Linked DNA regions of Homo sapiens: regions 1 and 2 are each reported to be linked to region 3. Evidence: microRNA targets listed by miRTarBase, many of them from high-throughput screens and not tested one by one. Region 3 holds a microRNA gene; each other region holds the end of a gene's coding sequence.

Region 1 (3,252 bases), not on the chromosome of region 3:
TTTTCCCTTGCACGAGGGAGTGTTGTGTTGCCTGGTGTTGGTAGGAGGATGTTCTTTCTACTGCCGTCACTGGGAAGTTTAAGTGTGTGCAGAAGGGTATGTCCTTTAGATATATGTGCACTTACATATTTGTGTCTGGCTGTTTTCCTCAAAGAGGAGGTTTCTCAAGGCAGGACCTGTGTCTGGCACAGGTAGTGTTTCTCCAGTGTCCCACAGGCAGCAAGAGTTTGATAATGAGTTAACACATGTGTGCTGTAACCCACCTCTGACTTTTCCCACCCACAGCTGTGCATGTCTGATAAACTGTGGGAACAGATAGTCCAGTCGACCTGCGACACCATCACTCCTGACGTGAGGGCCCTGGCGGAGGACACAGGCTGGAGACAGCTGTTCTTCACCAACAAGCTCCAGCTCCAGCGGCAGCTCCGCAAGAGGAAACAAAAATATGGAAACCTGAGAGAAAAGCAACCTTAGGCACACATTTTCCTACCAGCAGGGAGCTCAGGCATGGCTGTGTTTCTCTTCAGTGTCCAAATCTCTTCTGTCTCCTTTTCTTAAGAACTAAGAGGTTTTGTTGATGCGTGGAGCCATTTGAAACTCGTAGGGGATTTGCACACAAATGCAGCAGAGTCTGGCTCCCCAGTGCCTTGCTAGAGTCACCGTCATTCTGAGGTCAAATCATGGCCCGAGGACAAGGGCTGTAAGACAGGGAGCCCCATAGGCCATCATCATCCTTATCCCACACCCATTATAAAAGAGGTTTCTATTGTATATAAACAAACAATAAATGATTATTAGCAGGTTTTTATTAGACATCTATTTTATCTAGGCATTAGAAAGGGTAATGGGGCTTTTGAATTTTTTCCTGGCATTGTGTCGTCTGCGTCCAGCCATGAAGCTGGTGGCTGAGTGTCCCCACCAGGAACTGTGAAGGGCACGTACCACGGGAGGCACTCAGGGTGGGTGCAGCTGCCTTCCCAACTTTGTTCTGCTAAGTCCATATTCAGGGCCCTATCCTTGTGAGCCCAGGATGCCAGGGTCCATCCCCGCATGTAGACAGCTTCCGACCTGGTGCTGGAGCATGACTGGAGAAGTGCAGGCATCCTGCTTGCGGACCTTGCTCAAAGTACAACTTCCCAGGACTACTTCACATTGTTAAATAAACCTATAAACATTTCTTTTCTTTTCTTTTTTTTTTTTTTTTTGTATTTTCTTTTTAGTAGAGGTGGAGTTTCGCCATGTAGGCCAGGCTGGTCTTGAACTCCTGACCTCAAGTGATCTACCTGCTCTGGCTTCCAAAGTGCTGGGATTACAGGCATGAGCCACTATGTCTGGCTAAAACCTATAAACATTTCTTAGAGAAATGCTGTTCCCCAAAGGAATGTGAACAGCTACCACTTTTAACAAGGATATTTAAGAAAACAGACTATGAGTTAACTAAGTAAAAATGTAAATATGGTTTGCATGCTGTTAACATGGCAGAGGGGTAAAAAGAATACAGTCCTGGGGAGAAAGGTCACTTCACTGAGAAGGCTTACTTAAAAATGTTTTTCTCCCTGCACTTTCATGATTATTAAGTACCCCTAGAAAATGAACTCATAGCAGCAAATAATCTAATGACTCCTTTTAGGTTACAGAGCAAAGTAGCTTTCTACTTCCACATCACATTATAATATAGCCTTATAATTTCTTCTTTCCTGCAACCTTCACTTTCCTACCTAGGAAAACTCACCTCCGGTGCCAGAGAAACTTCCCAGGATGCACTAGGGCCCTGTGAACAATACAGAAGTTGTGGACTCTGGCTCTTTGTCCCACCTAAGTCCTTCCAGAAGGGCTCTACAGCATGGCTTAGTGACATTAAAAAAAAAAACTGAACCCATGTTAATATCAAACAAGATTTTAATCTTCATTCACACACCCTTAAAACCCAGTCACGGGGCTCCCCGGTGCCAGTTTGAGACCGTCAACCTAGCCCTCTCTGCTTCTCATTGCTGGAGGTACACACAGTCAAAAGTTTTCCGTGACTGTGAAATCCAGTGCAATCTGCTTCCCAGCAGATGAGGAGCCTGACGTGGTTATGTCTGGATTTAGTCCAAGAACAGAGCAAAGCTTTAATTGTCAAGAGACCCAGGCCTCATTCTCCACTTAGGAGAGTTTGCTAGGGCAGGTACAGGTAAAGGTAACCAGCAGGCAGCTGAGAGCAAGAAGGCACGTGCTCTGCAGAGCTCTAGCTGCCTTGGCTCTCCCTGAGCTCCCAGACTTCACTCATGGCCTAATTTTCAATGACAGAACGTAGGTTTTATCGTGAGGATGCAGACACAACCACAATTACGTATGTCAACATAACTTCATAAATATGTAACTGTAACTTATTGGTAACATCAGTGCAAGATGATTAAAGCTTCATGTGTAGTATTTTATCAACAAACAGATTCTGAAAGCTTATGGACATGCGCAATAGTTGATTCAGCTTCAATCAATAAGAACATAAATATGGCAATTTGAAAACACTATGTATATACCTACTCACATATATATTATACTTACGATATATACTTATATGTAGTATATAATAATATTACATATAAAAATGTTATAAAAATAAATGCTAAAGTAAATAAAAAAAGAGCCATTAATATGTTAACTATTGTTAAATAATAGCTAAAATAATACAGATTATTAAATTATTTTAATACTTACTTGCCATAATAATCTGAGTGCCTTATTACTTGATTACAATTGTTTTTGCCAAAATAGGAACAATATCATCAAGTGAACATCCTGTGTCTCCCCAGCATCCTCAGTGGTTGAAACACTTTGTCCCTCCCTCCCCCATCTCATTTTCCATGTGAGGTTCCATGTGACGATCCCATAACATGGTAATAGGCAGCGATGGTCTTGACTTTCTGCTTCTATTAACAGCTTTCATTTCTATTTCTGCTTTCATGTGGATGGATAAATCTGCTTTATGTCTTAACATTTCAGAGTGAAATGCCACACAATTTTTTTTTTTTTTTTTTTTTGAGGCAGAGTTTTGCTCTTTTCACCCAGGCTGGAGTGCAATGGTGCAATCTCAGTTCATGGAACCCTCCACCTCCTGGGTTCAAGTGATTCTCCTGCCTCAGTTTCCCGAGTAGCTGGGATTATAGGAGCCTGCCACAATGCCCTGCTAATTTTTGTATTTTTAGTAAAAACAGGGTTTCACCATGTTGGCCAGGCTGGTCTCGAACTCTTGACCTCACGTGACCTGCC
Region 2 (3,252 bases), not on the chromosome of region 3:
GCTGAGATTGTGCCACTGCATTCCAGCCTGAGCGACAGAGCAAGTCTGCATCTCAAAAAATTAAATAAATAAGAAAGACTGAGAGGTAGGAATTAATAGCAGAAGAAAAGGGGGAACTGATGTTGTGAGATTCTTGAGGTGGGAAGTAGTGAACACTACTGCAGTGATGCAAAAAGGGTCTTGAACAAGATAGTTGTTTTTAAAAAAATTGGGAATGAGTATCTAAATTTCTTCCTGAAATAATTATTGGATTGACTCAGATTGGCTGTTAGGCGCCTTTTTTCTCATGAGATTTTGTTCATCAAATAATCAACTGTTTTGAAATGAGATGAAAGGTCTTCATTCTGAGCCAATCTTCAGATTTCTATTTGTGCTCCCACAGTACAGCCTACTACTTCCTAGCTGGGGGAAACAAAAGGCCCTGCTGTTTTTAGTGGCTTTGAGAAAGTCATAAACTCCTTAGTCCTCAGCTTTCACTCACATCTACTAAAATAATGCCTTTTTTTTTCTTTTTTTTTTTGAGATGGCATCTTGTGGCCCAGGTTGGAATGTAGTGGCGCGATCATGGCTCACTGTAGCCCTGACCACCGAGGGTCAAGGGAGCAGGGTCAAGGGAGCAGGCTCAAGTGATCCTCCCACCTCAGCCTCCTTAGTAGCTGGAACCAAAGTGCACAATATCACACCTAGCTAGTATTTTTAGTTTTTGTAGAGGCAAGGTCTCTGTATGTTGCCCAAGCTGGTTTTGAACTCGTGGGCTCAAAGGATCTTCCTGCCTGTACTCCCAAAGTGTTGGGATTTCAGGCAGAAGCCACCCTCCTTGGCCTCTGTTTTTTTTTTTTTTTTTTGAGATGGGAGTCTTGCTTTGTCACCTAGGCTGGAGTGCAATGGTGCCATCTCGGCTCACTGCAACCTCTACCTCCTGGGTTCAAGCGATTCTCCTGCCTCAGCCTCCCGAGTAGCTGGGACTACAGACGCATGCCACCATGCCCAGCTAATTTTTTTTGTATTTTTTTTTTTTTTTTTGAGACGGAGTCTCGCTGTCGCCCAGGCTGGAGTGTAGTGGCGCGATCTTGACTCACTGCAACCTCTGCCTCCCGGGTTCAAGCAATTCTCCTGCCTTAGCCTCCTGAGTAGCTGGGATTATAGGCGCCCGCCACCACGCCCAGCTAATTTTTCTGTTTTTAGTAGAGACGGGGTTTCACCATGTTGGTCAGGCTGGTCTCAAACCCCTGACCTCGTGATCCACCCGCCTCGGCCTCCCAAACTGCTGGGATTACAGGCATGAGCCACCGCGCTGCCCTTTTTTTTGTTGTTATTTTTAGTAGAGATGGGGTTTCACTGTGTTAGCCAGAATGGTTTGGATCTCCTGACCTTGTGACCCGCCTGCCCTGCCTGCCTCAGCCTCCCAAGTTGGTGGGATTACAGGTGTGAGCCACTGTACCCGGCCGGCCTCATTTTTTATGGAGACCAAAAGACTGAATTCTATAAAAATGTCTTAACTCCTTTAGTTCTAAAGCCCAGTTTTAGATGTTAGCCACATTTATTCCCATTCTAACATATTCCTTCTAGGTGTATTTTCACATGTTCATTTCAGGATTCTTGCCTCTACATTTACTTGTAACTTTCCCATTTCTAAATTGTAGCCCTTTGATTTCCTCCAAACCATTCTCTGACAACCCAAACTGAGTTTTTCTTGGAATTCCTATGTAGCTATCTGTAAACTAACTGTTATGTTTTAGTTAGCCTGGGAGAGTCCTAGTTTTCATTTATTGTCCTAATATGTAATTATGGCTGTCCTAATCAGAAGCTACTTTGTAGATTAAAATGTCTGTAGAGAATATGCTTAAGAGCAGAAAGTTTACAATATACTCAAAATCTTCCCCTTCAGGAGGTAGCTTTTTCATGTACCTCCAACTTTCTCTTCAACCCTGTACCAAGCTCTTACATGTCGATATGTAACCAATGTAAACTCCTCAGAGGCCACAAAAGCCCCAGTGTGCATTCAGAAAGATTGGAGTTCAGTGAAGGGGCTGATTACTAGATACAGAAGAATCGGGATCTGCTAACAGTTAACATCTGGGAAAGAAAGTGGAAATGAGAAACTATTTTTTTGAGACAGTGTCTCACTCTGTCGCCCAGGCTGGAGTGCAGTGGTGTGATCTCAGGGATTACTCAGTGATCCTATTTTTTGTAGAGGCGGGGTTTTGCCATGTTTCCCAGGCTGGTGTCAAATTCCTGGGCTAAAGAGATCCACCTGCCTTGGCCTCCCAAAGTGTTGGGATTACAGGTGTGAGCCGTCGCGCCTGGTCAGAAATGAGAAACTTTATAGTCAAGTTGTATTTCCTTAAGTTAAGAAGGTCCTAACAGCCTAGTATAGTAACTTTTTTTTTTTTTTTTTTTTTTTTGAGATGGAGTCTTGCTCTGTCTGTCGCCCAGGCTGGAGTGCAGTGGCGTGATCTGGGCTCACTGCAAGCTCTGCCTCCCAGGTTCACACCATTCTCCTGCCTCAGCCTCCCAAGCAGCTGGGACTACAGGTGCCCGCCACCACGCCCGGCTAATTTTTTGTATTTTTAGTGGAGACGGGGTTTCAACGTGTTAGCCAGGATGGTCTCAATCTCCTGACCTCGTGATCTGCCCCCTCCTTGGCCTCCCAAAGTGCCAGGATTACAGGCGTGAGCCACCACGCCTGGCCAGTAACTTCTTAAAAGAGGTATAAAGTCTGAGATTCTAAGTGGGAAATCTGTGGCACTAAACCTTATCAAATGAGGGAGGCCTTAGGAGTAATTAATAAATTACTAGAACCTTTTTAAGTTTTTTTTTTTTTTGGTGTGGGGGGGTGGCGGGGAAGAGACCAGTCACCGACTGAATTCATCCAACAAGAAGCCATAACTTTATTTATGATAGAAACAGTACAAATTTCAAACCAAGCTGCAGTTACTCCTTTGAGACACCAAAAAAAGTTGCTTCCATATGGTTACATTGTTAATTCCTGTAACAGAGAAAAGATAATTAGCGGTTCTTATAGGCAAATCAGGAGAATTCAGGTCACTAAAACTCTTACAGGCAAATCAGGAGAATTTAGGCCACTAAAACCTATACGGCAACTCAGAAGAGGCTCTGGAATGAGGTTCCTTAATTGGCTGATATTTAGCAAGACAAAATAAAGTCACTCATAATTGGTCAGGGCAGAGGGAGTCAAGGAACAAAGGCTTGAACACTTACCATAATCGCATTTACAATATCATTACTGTT
Region 3 (3,252 bases):
GGACCCCTCACTAAGTGTTGATGGAGTTAGGACAGAGCTCAGCTGTTTGAATCTCAGAGCCCAGGCAGCTGGAGCTGGGTAGGATCCTGGAGCTGGCACTAATGTGAGGTGCATTCCCTCCAACCCAGGCTCAGATCCGGAACCTGACCGTGCTGACCCCCGAAGGGGAGGCAGGGCTGAGCTGGCCCGTTGGGCTCCCTGCTCCTTTCACACCACACTCTCGCTTTGAGGTGCTGGGCTGGGACTACTTCACAGAGCAGCACACCTTCTCCTGTGCAGATGGGGCTCCCAAGTGCCCACTACAGGGGGCTAGCAGGGCGGACGTGGGTGATGCGTTGGAGACTGCCCTGGAGCAGCTCAATCGGCGCTATCAGCCCCGCCTGCGCTTCCAGAAGCAGCGACTGCTCAACGGCTATCGGCGCTTCGACCCAGCACGGGGCATGGAGTACACCCTGGACCTGCTGTTGGAATGTGTGACACAGCGTGGGCACCGGCGGGCCCTGGCTCGCAGGGTCAGCCTGCTGCGGCCACTGAGCCGGGTGGAAATCCTACCTATGCCCTATGTCACTGAGGCCACCCGAGTGCAGCTGGTGCTGCCACTCCTGGTGGCTGAAGCTGCTGCAGCCCCGGCTTTCCTCGAGGCCTTTGCAGCCAATGTCCTGGAGCCACGAGAACATGCATTGCTCACCCTGTTGCTGGTCTACGGGCCACGAGAAGGTGGCCGTGGAGCTCCAGACCCATTTCTTGGGGTGAAGGCTGCAGCAGCGGAGTTAGAGCGACGGTACCCTGGGACGAGGCTGGCCTGGCTCGCTGTGCGAGCAGAGGCCCCTTCCCAGGTGCGACTCATGGACGTGGTCTCGAAGAAGCACCCTGTGGACACTCTCTTCTTCCTTACCACCGTGTGGACAAGGCCTGGGCCCGAAGTCCTCAACCGCTGTCGCATGAATGCCATCTCTGGCTGGCAGGCCTTCTTTCCAGTCCATTTCCAGGAGTTCAATCCTGCCCTGTCACCACAGAGATCACCCCCAGGGCCCCCGGGGGCTGGCCCTGACCCCCCCTCCCCTCCTGGTGCTGACCCCTCCCGGGGGGCTCCTATAGGGGGGAGATTTGACCGGCAGGCTTCTGCGGAGGGCTGCTTCTACAACGCTGACTACCTGGCGGCCCGAGCCCGGCTGGCAGGTGAACTGGCAGGCCAGGAAGAGGAGGAAGCCCTGGAGGGGCTGGAGGTGATGGATGTTTTCCTCCGGTTCTCAGGGCTCCACCTCTTTCGGGCCGTAGAGCCAGGGCTGGTGCAGAAGTTCTCCCTGCGAGACTGCAGCCCACGGCTCAGTGAAGAACTCTACCACCGCTGCCGCCTCAGCAACCTGGAGGGGCTAGGGGGCCGTGCCCAGCTGGCTATGGCTCTCTTTGAGCAGGAGCAGGCCAATAGCACTTAGCCCGCCTGGGGGCCCTAACCTCATTACCTTTCCTTTGTCTGCCTCAGCCCCAGGAAGGGCAAGGCAAGATGGTGGACAGATAGAGAATTGTTGCTGTATTTTTTAAATATGAAAATGTTATTAAACATGTCTTCTGCCAAACTGTTTTTAGGTCTAGGGAAAATTGAGTAAGGAGAAGAATCCAAGGGAAGGGAATGGGGAGTCGTCCCGAGGGACCCACTGCCTCCCCACCTTCTTCCCTTCCCCTTCTCTCCCCCTCCCCTCCCCAGTTTCCAATGACCACACGGCTGCTGTCAGATGAATGACTTTTAATCCAGCCCCACACCCCAAGGTGGCAGAGGAGTGATGCTGGAGCCCGGGGCAAAATGCTGGGGCCCGGGACACGGCTGAAAGTTCCGTCGTGCTGCTTATTTTTGGGCTCCTAGGTGTTGCGCACAACCAGCGACTGCTCCAGCTCCTGCCTGCGCTGCTGGATCTTTAGAGGAAGTGAGAACAGGAGCAGGTGTCAGTGTTCTGGTGAGTGATCAGGACAATCCCACCTACTGACACCGCCTGCCCTGAAAGAGCATCTGGGAGCAGGGAGGGCCATTGCATGGTGAGGCAGCGTGGTGAAGCTTTACTGTGGGGAGCTGCGAGGGCTGCCCACAAGCTGAACAGGGAGGTTTCTCTTGGAGTTGAGGATGGGGAAGCCTCAGGGCAAGGGTCCCTGCATACCTTGCAGTAGAAGTAGCGACTGACGGCCTCCTGGGACCAGGGCTGGTGGTAGAACTCAGCCCGGCGCTCCTCTTCAGGGTTGCCGGCTACATCTGTCATCACCTGGGAGGGAGCGTGGGGTGAGCCCTGAGCCCTGAATCCCCTCACCTGCCCCTGGAGTACAACGTTTACTCTCTTTCCCGCTGTGCTTGTCTTCCACTCCAGTACTCCCTGAGTCTCCCTCTTCACCTTGAGGTCCCGGCTCTGGGAGCGGAGCAGGTCTTGGACATAGCCTTTGGGGTCTCTGGAGAAGCTTAGCATGAAGTCCCTCTGGATCTTGAGCTGGTTTATGGACTCAATCGTCTCATGGATCTGCAGGTAGAAAGATAGATGCTTTCCACCTGGCTTTGGTGATGTGGGAGACGAGGGGAAAGGAAGCGGGTGGGAAGGGGAGGGAGAGGGGGTTTCTTCTGTGAAGGACAACCCCTCAGAGCCCCTGATTTCTCTGAAGTCCCAGGGGAGGAGGGGATGGGCAGAACTAAACTTGGAATGAGGTTCAGCTCCAAGCAGCATGGACGGGCCATGTGTGTCCCATTGGCCCAGAGTCTGGTCTCTTTTTTTTTTTTTTTTTTAATTTAACCCAGACTGCTCATCTGCAACCACACCCTGGTCTCAGAAAAGTCTCCTCTATCATCTCTGGGTTAATGTCCCACTCCAGCTCTGGGCTTGGGCCCCACCTTACTGTCCAGAGCACTGATCTCCTGCTGGTTGGCCGTGGATAGGAGGAAGCTGCTCATCTGCCCCTTTAATGGCTCCTCCACCTCCACGTCAATGTCATAGCACGCCGTCTTCTTCTGGTCTGAAGGGTCCACGCTGCCAGGGAAGTCCAGCCCTTCGTGTCCACGATGCCCCCATACGGCCCCAGGGCCCCGGGGCTGGGGCAGATCCAACAGGGAGGGAGAAGAGATGGGAGTGGGAGGAGAGGGAGGGGCAGGGAAGGCAGGAACGAGATCATTCCCTGGTCTGAGAAGCAAGCTGGGGCCACCTCACCTGATGACATGGTTGATGACAATTGGGTCAGGGGGCAATAGCAGGGCTGTGAGGCGCTGGGGAATCTCAGAAA

What was found. Region 3 holds the annotated microRNA hsa-miR-671-5p (AGGAAGCCCUGGAGGGGCUGGAG, at 1,204-1,226, shown strand). A microRNA usually pairs through its seed, bases 2 to 8, with sites in the 3' UTR of a target mRNA and lowers its output. Matches are read on the target gene's strand: a 7mer-m8 pairs with bases 2 to 8, a 7mer-A1 pairs with bases 2 to 7 and ends in A, and an 8mer does both.
Region 1: miRTarBase lists FBXO36 as a target of hsa-miR-671-5p. Seed matches in the 3' UTR shown: 8mer at 1,291-1,298.
Region 2: the mRNA of NACA is a reported target of hsa-miR-671-5p. The part of its 3' UTR that is shown has no 7-base or 8-base seed match.

What each region holds. Positions count from the first base shown.
Region 1 is chr2:230,010,411-230,013,662 of GRCh38, forward strand. FBXO36 (F-box protein 36) reads left to right here. Exons shown (of 4, transcript NM_174899.5): 4 at 286-2,709. The coding sequence ends at 474. Among named protein-coding and RNA genes, the nearest start is that of SLC16A14, 57 kb to the right of the region's middle.
Region 2 is chr12:56,709,564-56,712,815 of GRCh38, forward strand. NACA (nascent polypeptide associated complex subunit alpha) reads right to left here. Exons shown (of 9, transcript NM_001365896.1): 8 at 3,223-3,252; 9 at 2,864-2,989. The coding sequence ends at 2,975. Among named protein-coding and RNA genes, the nearest start is that of NACA, 14 kb to the right of the region's middle.
Region 3 is chr7:151,237,246-151,240,497 of GRCh38, forward strand. MIR671 (microRNA 671) reads left to right here and starts at 1,176; the gene lies at 1,176-1,293. CHPF2 (chondroitin polymerizing factor 2) reads left to right here. Exons shown (of 4, transcript NM_019015.3): 4 at 129-1,577. The coding sequence ends at 1,436. It overlaps SMARCD3 (SWI/SNF related BAF chromatin remodeling complex subunit D3), which reads right to left. Exons shown (of 13, transcript NM_001003801.2): 9 at 3,180-3,252; 10 at 2,867-3,002; 11 at 2,379-2,501; 12 at 2,151-2,252; 13 at 1,535-1,911. The coding sequence ends at 1,858. LOC124901779 (a long non-coding RNA gene) reads left to right here and starts at 2,416. Exons shown (of 2, transcript XR_007060596.1): 1 at 2,416-2,507; 2 at 2,774-3,252. RefSeq lists an enhancer at 2,306-3,252.